Linked DNA regions of Homo sapiens: region 1 is linked to region 2. A link means that fine-mapping ties the variant in region 2 to the expression of a gene that starts in the linked region. Tissue or cell type: whole blood. Region 2 holds a variant in brackets; the other region holds the start of a gene. All regions are shown on one strand. Distances are from middle to middle.

Evidence for each region. PIP is the estimated chance that this variant, and not a neighbour inherited with it, causes the effect.
Region 1: PTK2 starts here. The variant in region 2 is fine-mapped to the expression of PTK2 in whole blood (TOPMed, PIP 0.98).

The regions. Positions count from the first base shown.
Region 1 is chr8:140,999,098-141,005,306 of GRCh38, reverse strand. PTK2 (protein tyrosine kinase 2) reads left to right here and starts at 4,025. Exons shown (of 36, transcript NM_001352702.2): 1 at 4,025-4,182. RefSeq lists silencers at 3,591-4,010, 4,031-4,360.
Region 2 is chr8:140,858,616-140,863,615 of GRCh38, reverse strand. The region is part of intron 5 of PTK2 (protein tyrosine kinase 2); the gene reads left to right. Among named protein-coding and RNA genes, the nearest start is that of MIR151A, 130 kb to the right of the region's middle. The variant C/G (reference allele first, on the strand shown) is at 2,873.

The DNA of each region.
Region 1 (6,209 bases), 140 kb before region 2:
AGGAACCTGGGCTTCAGTGTCTCTTCAGTGATATCAGCTTCCACGCCCCCATGACTGTGCATCCACCCCTGGCCTTAATGTGTGTTTCTGCTTCTCCAGCGTGAGTGAGCCCCTCCTGGGAGGGAGCCCTTAGCCGACCAGGGAGGTGGGGGGCTTTTCAAGGGGGAACTGCTCCCAGGCTCACTGCAGCTGCTCTGCCAACACACAGGAAGCTCTTCCTGAAAGCTTCCCACGCAAGGTCAGCGCTCACCCCATCTGGTGCAGTGCAGGAAGGGGAGAAGCCAAATTGTGTTCTCTGTTTGGTTTTTTTTTTTTTTTTTGTATGGGATATGAGTGCATCAGAGACTGCGCTGGGGAGAGGAAGGAGCACAGGCTTTGCAGTTGGACAGATGCAGCCTTGAATTCCAGCCCTGCTATCTGACTCATTGCTGCTGCTACTTCTTCTTTTTTTTTTTTTTTTTTCTGAGCAGTAGTTTTCTTTTCCTTTTTTTTTTTTTTTTTTTTTTTGAGATGGAGTCTTGCTTCTTCACCCAGGCTGGAGTGCAATGGCCCAACCTCAGCTCACTGTAACCTCCGCCTCCTGGGTTCGAGCAATTCTCCTGCCTCAGCCTCCCAAGTAGCTGGGATTACAGGCACGTGCCAGCACACCCGGCTAATTTTTGTATTTTTAGTAGAGACAGGGTTTCACTGTGGTTGGCCAGGCTGGTATCGATCTCCTGACCTCAAGTGATCCGCCCGCCTCGGCCTCCCAAAGTGCTGGGATTATAGGCGTGAGACACTGCGCCCAGCTGTCTGAGCAGTAGTTTTCAAATTTATAAAATGGAGGTGCCGATAATAGCGTCTACATCACAGGGTTGCTATGAGGTCTGGAGACAGCGTATTCAGGTTCTGACCCACAGAGACTGAGAGAAGTCAGCCTTCCTTGACTCTGTGCTCTGGTGGTCCTTTGCATACCCCTCCATCATCATGCAAATTATTAGTAATCGATAAAGCAATGCTATAGTCGATCAATAACACTTATATATGCTAAGCACCCTGCTGTTTTATGAGAATGGTTTGTTTCCTCTACAACCTAATTTTTTTTTTTGAGATGGAGTCTTGCTCTGTCACCCAGGCTGGAGTGCAGTGGCGCCATCTCCACCCACTGCAAGCTCTGCCTCCCGGGTTCACGCCGTTCTCCTGCCTCAGCCTCCCGAATAGCCGGGACTACAGGCGCCCGCCACCACGCTGGCTAATTTTTTTGTATTTTTAGTAGAGACGGGGTTTCACCTTGTTAGCCAGGATGGTCTCAATCTCCTGACCTCATGATCCACCCGCCTTGGCCTCCCACAGTGCTGGGATTACAGGTGTGAGCCACCGTGCCCGGCCTCTCTACAGCCTAATTCTAATGTACATCCTTTAGAGCCTCCATTTCACAGATGAGAAATTGAGGCTCAGAGACATTATACAACCTTCACAGGTTTATTGGTGAATGGTTAAACTTAAGCCTGGGTCTGTGCCAATGTTCATCTTACTCCTAAACCTGAGTTCTCAGGCACCACAAAGTGTGCCCAAGAGGTAAGACAAGCCACTGTTTCCTAGGTTTGTCCCTTTTCCCGTTTGTATCTCTGTTTGCCCTTCTCCTTTGCATCACTTCTTCCCGCCGTTTTCTGATTTCTTCTTTTACTAAGCATAATAATAACCAAAGCTGCCCTTCAAGAACGTCAATTTCAAATGTATCGTGGCAGAGTCCAGGAAACAATATTGTGTAACACACTACCCTAAAACCTAAAGGCTTAAAACCACATGTATTTTATTGGCTCACAATTCTGTGGTTTGGCAATTTGGGTTGGATTCAGCTGGGCAGTTCTTCCATCAGTCTCTCCAGGTCTTATGTATGCTTCACAGGGGCTGGGTGGTCTAGTACAGCTCACTCACATGTCTGGAGGTGGCACCTTGTTGGCCAGGGTGCCTCAGTTCTCTTCCACACGGCCTCCTCGTGAGGCTAGCTTGGGCTTAAGGGGGGAAAATGAAAGCAGCATGGCCTCTTGAGGCCTAGGCTTGGAATTTGTACAATGTCACTTGTGACACATCCCATTGGTCAAAGCAAGTTACAAGATCCCATCCACATTCAAGGGGTGAATAAATTCCACCTCTTCTTGGGAAAAGTGTCAAAGAATTGATGGCCATTTTTAGTCTACTATGCTAAGTGCAGCCCCTTCCCCCAAAGTTATCCTTAATGCAGTCCCTTTGTGCCTCCACTCTCCTCTTTTAATTCCCATGCTTTTCTTATCCTTTTAATAATAAGCTCTCACTTCACATCACCCAAAGCTTCGTTCATTCACTTGACAAATACTTACTGTGTGCCAGGACCTATTAGTGAACAAAACAAAGCCCGTGCTCTAATGAATCTAAGATTCTAGTGGAGAGAGCGGACAATCAAGAAATAAACAAGAACACAGTGTTGGGCTATGGTGAACAATAGGTGCTTTGGAGAACAACAGAGCAGACTAAGTGCGGACTGTGTGTGAGGATAGCAGGGCAGTGGGTGGTTCCTATTATATGAAGTGGTCGGCTGTATCAATGAGGTGATATATAAGCAGGGTATTGAACGAAGTGAGGAGCAAGAAGTTCCAGGCAGAGCAAATAGCACGCGCAAAGGCCTGAGGCTGGCATGGAGAGGCAATTCCTTACAATTTCATATGTAGTAAAAAGTAACAAAACCCAGAAAAACACCAACCTTAATACATCTCATTAAAGAACAATACAACCCAAACATTTAAATATGGTAAAATCTTGATAAGCAAAAGCTTTTTATTTTACTTCATTTTTACTTTTATAAAAGCTCCTAATGCAATGACGTGTGTCACCTCTCTGGGCTTCAGGGTGTTCACCTTTCAAAAGGCCTCGGTGCCTGTCTGTCCTGCTTCCTGGCTTGTGGTTAGCATCAAAATGACACCATAAAAATGAAAGTTGCAGCCTTGAGGGTTCTTCTGGTTTCATTTCCGACCACAAGGTTGCCAGAGTGACTTTTTTTTTTTTTTAAATAACACAAATCAGTTATCACTTCCTGCTTAAAGCCCTCCAAAGGTTCCCTGTTGCCTAAAGAATAAACTCCAGGCACCTAAGCAAGCCCCACGCAGCCGTCTGCATTTTTCAATCCCTCCAACCTCGCCTTTTGCTATTTCCCCCACCCCACCTACGGCACGTTCCGGTCATAACCAACTAGCTCCTCGCTGAAACTGGCTCACACCGCGGAAGCCCGGGTCGGTGTCGGGGCGAGCCTTCCCTCCTTTTCCTGGAGCCCGTCTCAGGTCTGTAGCCCTCGGGAGGGATTGCAGGGCTCGTTCCCTGCTGGCGTTCATTTAGGTAACCTGTCTACCTCCAGTGGACTTCTAAGTCCCTTTCATGATTTTTCATCTTCCAAAATCAAATAATGGCCCAGCCCAACTTAGCTATAATGCCATGAAAAGAATCTCTGAGCCTCAGTTTCCTTGTCTGCAAAAAGGGCCCAGGAACCGCTCGTTAGGGTCGGTGTGGTGCCTGGAGAGTGCACTGCAAGGCCCGGGGCCCGCAGCGGGTGCCCGACAGCGGGCGTCCAACTCTGGGGGCGGGGCCGCAGGGCCGCTCAGGAGGGAGGTTCTCCAGAGGGGACCCCTTCGGGATTTGGGGGCAGGGAAGGAGATGGGGAGGACTTTCCCGAAGTCCGTCTAATCCCGCTGGCGGAGAGCGAGGCAGGTGGGACCCCAGGATGTCCGCTCGGCGGGGCGACCCCGGCCACCCCCGAGACCAGGGCTTTCCTCGTCCGGCCGCCACGCCCGCGCGCAGCCTCGGGCCACCCCGAAACCCCGGCGCGGTCACTACAGGACAAATTACGCGAGCAGAGCCTAGCGGCGCGCTGGGCATGCGCGGGGGCGGCGCGCATGCCCAGTCCCCCCGAGAGGCGGGAACTCCGGACTGAGACCGGGTCGGGCGTGCGCTGCCGAGAGAGGACGCGCGCCTCAGCCGGCTGCCGCGCACGCGCGCGGGCCCGCGCCGACGCAGCACGGCCTCGAGGGCGCGAGCCCGCGCCGCCGCCGCCGCCGCCGGTCCCGGACCACTGTGAGCCCGCGGCGTGAGGCGTGGGAGGAAGCGCGGCTGCTGTCGCCCAGCGCCGCCCCGTCGTCGTCTGCCTTCGCTTCACGGCGCCGAGCCGCGGTCCGAGTGAGTGCGGGGCGCCGGGCGCGGGGCGCGGGTCGGGGGCTGGGCGGGCTCCTTCTGTGCAGCGGTCGTGGGCTGGGCCGCGGCCCTGAGGGCGGAGGGGCAGAGCGGGGCCGCCCAACCAGTCCCGGGGCGGATGCGGCGGAGACCGGCCCCTCCCGCGCCCCCGGCCCGGGTTCTGGGAGGAGGGGAGGCCGGTGGCCGTGAGGAGGTTGGGGGCCCTCGCGGAGGCCGAGAGGCTTAAGGAGGTCAGGGGGCGCGCTGGGAGGCGGGGGTTCGGGGCGCTGGGTGGTCGGGAGGCTTGGGGAAGACTGGGAGGCTGAGGGACGTGGGGAGGCCGGGAGCTCGAGGAGGTCGGGGGTTTTGGGGGCGCGCGGGGAGGCCAAGGGGTTCGGGGAAGACAGAAAGGCTGGGGGACGTGGGGAGTCCGGGAGACGTGAGGAGGAAGGGGGGGGCGGCTTTCGAAAAGGCCGGGCGCGCGGAGAGGCCGAGGGGCCTGAGGAAGACGAGGAGGCCGGGGCTCTGGGGGCGCGCAGGGCGGACAGAGGCGCGGGGAGGACGGGCCGGCCTCCGCCGGAGCGGACCCAATGCCTGAAAAACAAAAGGGGAGAGGCAGGAGGAGGAAGAGGGAAATCGCAGGGACGTCGGCAGGGTTCGCCCGGACGCGAGAGGGAGGCTCGCGACGGCCCGACCTCCGTCCCCCGGGCGCGGCCTCGCGGGCAGCCAAGGGTGGGCTCCGAGCGGCCTGCCGGTGCCCGAGCCCCAAGCCCGCCGTGTCCCCGAACGCAAACCCTCAAGTTTGGTAGAGCCCCGTGGGCTTCTTGGCGGGAGCCCTGGAGCCCTCACTGAAGTCCTCACTGGAGTCATTGTGCTTCCCAAGTTTTCTCCTCTTCCCCGCCCCCAGCCCCCGACTCTGCCGCGGTGGCTTAGGCGCAACTGTTTGCCGAATTTCTCTCTGGGTTCCTTGTGTAGCGGCATCCTGTTCTTTCTTAGAAGAAGGGGTGTGTGTGTGTGTGTGTGTGTGTGTGTGTGTGTGTGTGAATTGGTTTCATTTAATTGCAGAATTTTGTAGCTAAATTCAGTGAGGGTAAAGTTTCTTTTTTTTTTTTTTTCCGAGTCATTTCAACAGTGTCTCATTCTTGCATAGTTAGCCTGCAGCTGGGTTTTTGGCAATGAGACTAAGATAATAGTAATATTGTAGTAATTATGGGAACTGGTTATACATTCAAGCTGAAAGCTGAAGGCAGTGCAAGAGTTTGGGGATTTGTATTTAAGACTTAACCATCGCTAGGATTTTTACTTAGAATGTAAACGTTTTCATGGCTGGAAAAACAGACCAGTACTATTTGAAATGAAATACCAGAGCCTCAACCTTAATATTTTATTTGGGAAACGGGTAATGAAAATGATGTCTTCGAGAGTTGAGCACTCCGTCCCATATTTGAAAACTTATGAGCAGTGCGATGCAAGCACACGGATGAACTAGTTACAAGACACATAAAAGTAAACTAGCATTCAACGTATTTTTGTTGGGGTACAGTATAGATAATATTTTCATCCAGTTATACTAGCCAATTAATTAGAAAAGCCCTATGATATTCAAACAAGGAACATTTTAAGGATGTTTGTGTCCCAATATCTTTGTGTTTTGTATTTGTGGTTATCCTTGGTGGGGAAAAACAGGCTGAACCTACCATCATTTTGAACCTTCTTGTTTATTAAACTGCAGAAACAACAAGATCAATATTACAAGGTTTTCCTTTAAAGAATTTCAGGTCACTATCAAATAATCTAGTTTAATAATGAACACAGGCACAGATTATTTAAAACACATGCTTCCTTTATAAGGGAGCCGACAATCACCTAAGACTTCAGTGTAGACGCTGATTAGAAGGACCCATACATCATTCAGTGGTGATGCATCAAGAAGCAAGTCATTGGTTAAATAAAGACATGGAAATCAAAACTCCATGTTTACGGTTTGGGGCAAAGAATACTGGGGCAAACTCTGAGAGGAGATGGGACTTAAA
Region 2 (5,000 bases):
ACTGAAAAGCATCATTTGAGGAGTCTTCAACTTTGTAGAAAAGGAAGAGTTGTGTTTTCTAGACAAGAACACGGAGGGGAGAGAGAAAATGTGGTGCAGTCTTAGCTAAAATAGTTCATAACATTTTGGTGAGAGAGGGACCACAAACATTATGTAAACAGGGGTTTAGGTTTTCTCCTGCAGATATTGGGAGCCATTTAAAAACGTTAGTTAGCAAATGCCGTAACCAGAATTTTTTTTTTTGAGACCACTCTGATTAGATGGCAGTATCAGGGATAGATTGAATTTTTAAAAGGTTGCAAGCATGTTTAGAGGCTCTTCAATCATTCTGGCAAGAAATTAAATAAAAGTGAAAGTATATTATAATAAGCAAATTTAGTGGATGGATTTGATAGGACCCAGAGATTGAACTAAAACAGAATATGAAAATAAGGAAGAAAAAGGCTTATTATGTAAGTCTAGGCACTTACTGCCATGAAAGAGCAATGGTGGATTAGATTCAAAAGAAGGAGGTAAGAAGGTAAGTTGTTCTATATTTTTCTATGTGAGATAATGATAGATGTTACCATTTAAAAGATTCAAGCTGAGAGAGTAGGAAGCTAAGGAAGTTTCCAGCTGTTGGCGGGGGTGTGTCTGTTTTCATCTTGTCTGTGAAGAAGTAGTCACATAGGAGATAGGTTGGGGCCTGCTGCTTTACCTAACACCTTTTTGGCACCAGCGACTGGTTTTGAGGAGGACAGTTTTTCTACAGACCAGGGCCACAGGGTGTGGCAGGGTGGGGTGTGGGGGAATGATTTCGGGATGAAACTGTTTGACCTCAGATCATCAGGCCTTAGGTTCTCATAAGGAATGCGCAACCTAGATCCCTCACACGTGCACCTCACAACAGGGTTTGCGCTCCTATGAAAATCTTATGCCACTGCTTATCTGACAGGAGGCAGAGCTCAGGCGGTAATGCTCGCTTGCCCACAGCTCACCTCCTGCTGTGTGGCCTGGTTCCTAATAGGCTACTAACTGGTACTGATCCATGGCCCAGGGTTTGGGGAACCTTGAGGTAAGGGATTGGTGACAAGTTTTGAGGGTTTACGATAATACAGAGTTGAATATGAAAGGGAGTTAAGTTGGTAAAATGGAAAGATTAAGAAGGCGTTTTTAGATTCCAGCTGAGCTTATTGGAAGCCTACTCATTGCAAAAATAATTTTCATCTTACAGACTGGTTCTCATGTATTATTACATCTCATCCTTTAGGAATCTGTTGAACTTCATATTTTGGCGAAGGAGATAACAAGAGAGTTTAAATAACTCATGTTTATTTAGCATTTTTCTCTTGGTATGTGATCTGTGTCACTACTTGTATTACTTCTTTGAAAAAAAATTCTACCCACCGAGGAAATACATGGGTACTTTAGTAACATTGATTTCCAGAATGCATAATACAGGCTTAAGTGACTCCTTTTTATAATTTCTAGGCTAACCTAAAAGTCTGCAACTTTTTTGTTCCTAGTTCACACTGTTACTAGGTTGTCCTACTTTTTCTTTGTTGGAAGACTTTCCTATATGATAAAGTGAGTACTGCACATACCAATGTATCCCAGATTTTCTTTTACTAATAGGATATATTTTATGGTAGTCTATAGAATTCAGTTCAGCGGTCTTTATAAAACCCAAGAGAAAGCTAAATGTAATGAACCTATTAAAAATTCAGTCTATCCCTGATACTGCCATCCAGTCAGAGTGGTCTAAAAAAAATTCTGATCAAGGCATTCACTAAGTATAGTTAAGTGTTAATGAAATTTCGCTTAAAGGAATATGCAGTGAATACAGTCGTGTGCTTGTTCTGTATATAATAGCTCTGTGATTTTAGGTACCTCTGAGTCTCTTTGTGCTTAATTGTTTCATATACTAAAATATAGATATGGAATAACTATTGTATAGGACTGTTAAGTTCATTATATGAGATAAAATTGTCTGCCATATAATTGCCCAGTGATATTTTGAATTTCAGTCTGTAGACAGTAACAGACTTAGAGGATTCAGCATTTGCCATTTGCATATCACCATACAAGTGTGAGCTGCACATTATGGGATGGTACATAGCTTGCCTTTTCCTTCCTATGTGCACTCTGTAGAGCCTTTCAGCTCCTCCACCCCACTCTTTGCTGTCATTCATTTCTACAGTTTCTCTTCTTGTCTTTTTAATTTTTAAAAATCTGTTAAATTATATGGTACATTTTAATATTTTTAAAAATTTTATTTTATTTTTATAGAGACAGGGTCTTGCTCTGTTGCCCAGTCTGGAGTGTAGTGGCATGATTATACCTCACTGCAGCCTTGAACTTCTGGGCTCAAGCAATCGCCCTGCCTCAGCCTCCTGAGTAGTTGGGACTACAGGTGCGTGCCATGATGCCTCGCTAATTTTTAAAAAGTCTTTTGTAGAGATGGGGGTCTTGCTATGTTACCCACCCAAGCTGGTCTCAAATTCCTGTCCTGAAGCAGTCCTTCCGCCCTGGCCTCCCAAAGTGCTGGGAGTATAGGCATGAGCCACCATGCTTGGCATGGCACACTTTTAGAAAGTTCAAAAAATAATTCTAAAACATTACTTAAATTATCTCTATTCTAATAATCACTTTCATTTTGTGTATCCTTTTGTAATAGTTTATCAAGTACATACATTTTAAAAGAAAGTATAGTCATGGTCACATTCCTTTCCCATTGGTGATTGGCAATGTCGTTGTTTTTCCGTGCTAGTATTTCAGGCTCAAGTAATGGTAATTGGAGGAAGTTAAAGGTGGTACCAAAGTCATAAAAAGGGAAGGGAGGAAGAAAGAAAATACTATGATTGTCTGGGTGCGGTGGCTAACGCCTGTGATC[C/G]CAGCACTTTGGGAGGCCGAGGCGGGTGGATCACCTGAGGTCAGGAGTTCGAGACCAGCCTTGGCCAACATGGCAAAACTCCGTCTCTACTAAAAATAAAAAGATTAGCAGAGCATGGTGGTACACACCTGTATCCCAGCTACTGAGGAGCTGGGGCAGGAGAATAGCTTGAATCCAGGAGGCAAAGGTTGCAGTGAGCCAAGATCATGCCACTGCACTCCAGCCTGGGCGACAGAGCAAGGCCCTGTCTCAACAAAAACAAAATACTATGATTTGTCAAAATGCATGAATTGGCCAGTATACCAAAAGCCTTGAGTATGTTCACGTCCTCCAGTTTGTTGGGTGACCCTGTTGACTGCCATCTTTACCGTAAGTAAAAAACAGTTGAAACGTTGGCAGTTCCCTATGATTGGACCTAATAATTCTACTTTTATGAATTTATTCAAAAGAAATAAGATTTACACATGTATGCATACATGTACAAGGGTGCTTATAAGCATATTACAGTAACAAGAAAGAAATTAGAGGCGTTGCAGATGTCTTTCAACAGGTTAGTTGTACTGAGTTTCAAATTTATGTATCCCTCATTAACAGGGAGGTACAACTGTTCATGGATGTGGAAGGTATTAACAGCATTAAATGCTGTTGTTTAAAACAGGCCATGTATAAAACCTGTATAATTTTCGTTTATGTGGGAAAAAAATGCATATTTTTAAATTTTAGCCTGATCTGGCAAGAAAGTTTTGAATATACTATGAGTTTTTATTGCTGGTTTGGTAAGTAATTATATATTTGACTTCTCCTGGTAAAGTCTCAATGCAGAATCTGCCCTGCTACATGCTTCGCAATTCCAGAACTGTTATAAGTGATCCATATATTGTCCTGCACAGGCAGCACCCAACTTGGGAAAGGGTTTAATTCCAAAGTTGCAAAATCAGTTTGGAATCCAGAGGTTTCTGCTATTTAAACACACATGTCGGGGGTGGGCGGGAGGGGGGGCACAGATAAATCAGTAATTGTCCTCATCAGCTTTCTATAGCCAGCGTATATTTATCTGAGAATGCAGCTGAAACGTTACGTAAGTATTGTGTGTGAGAACCTTCACTGAAGTGTGAGATAAATTAGTCACTTTATAATGGCCTCAGAATTTGATGATACGCATTCTCTAACCTTTAAAGTCTTTAATATTTGATGCAAACATTTAAGATGGATACATATATACATAACATACTTCCACTGAATTCTAGGCTAAATCAGTGATTTTTATGGGGCTCAGAATTTGATGACATTGATAATTTTTAATTCTGTAGATTCTATAATATCTGATATATGTTTATTCTTTTATAAGGTGTGATAATTGATGATAAAATGAATACCCATGACCCTACTGCTCAGATGAAAAGAACATCCTGATACTTCCCTGTCCCATGTTCCTGTGGCCCACCTCACTGTACACACTGCCCTTTCACTCCACTCAGTGTACCATTATCCTGAATTTTGTATTTATCATTCCCATGCTTGCTTTTGTTTGCCAGTTGTCATGCTTTACAACATGTTTTTATTCTTCAGTTCTACCCTTAAGGTAAAAGCTGACCTTAAGTTCTCCCATAGACTTCTCTATTCCTGTCATTAGCTTGAGTATTTTCTGTTTTGTTTTGTTTCCCAGCTCACGTAAGCATTCAAGAAGATTTTAAAAAAATAATTTGTTCAGCGGTTTTAGTTGCTTTCAGCTAGGTGGTTGGTCAGGACATTCAGTATACCTTGTTGGTATAAATGGAAAAGTGATCATCCGTGGATTTAATAATTTATCTCTTTTGGCTCATTTTGAAAATAATTTTGCATTGTAGTCAAGAGACTGTGGCTCATTTGATACTAATTGTTTAAGTTCCGTATGGACTTGTTTCATCACCTTGCACATATTTAGATATTGTTAAGGTTCCAGTTTTGCTTGAGTGGAATGTGTCTTCTGTAATTGTTTGGCACAGGCTCAATAAATAGCCATTATTTCAAGATTTTTAATTGTGTTATTTAGATCCATTTTTCTAATGTTCTTTTTTTCTCCTGCTTGAAAAATAGTATTGCTGGGTACACAAATCAGGGTAGGCATTTTCTGTCAGTATTTTGATGG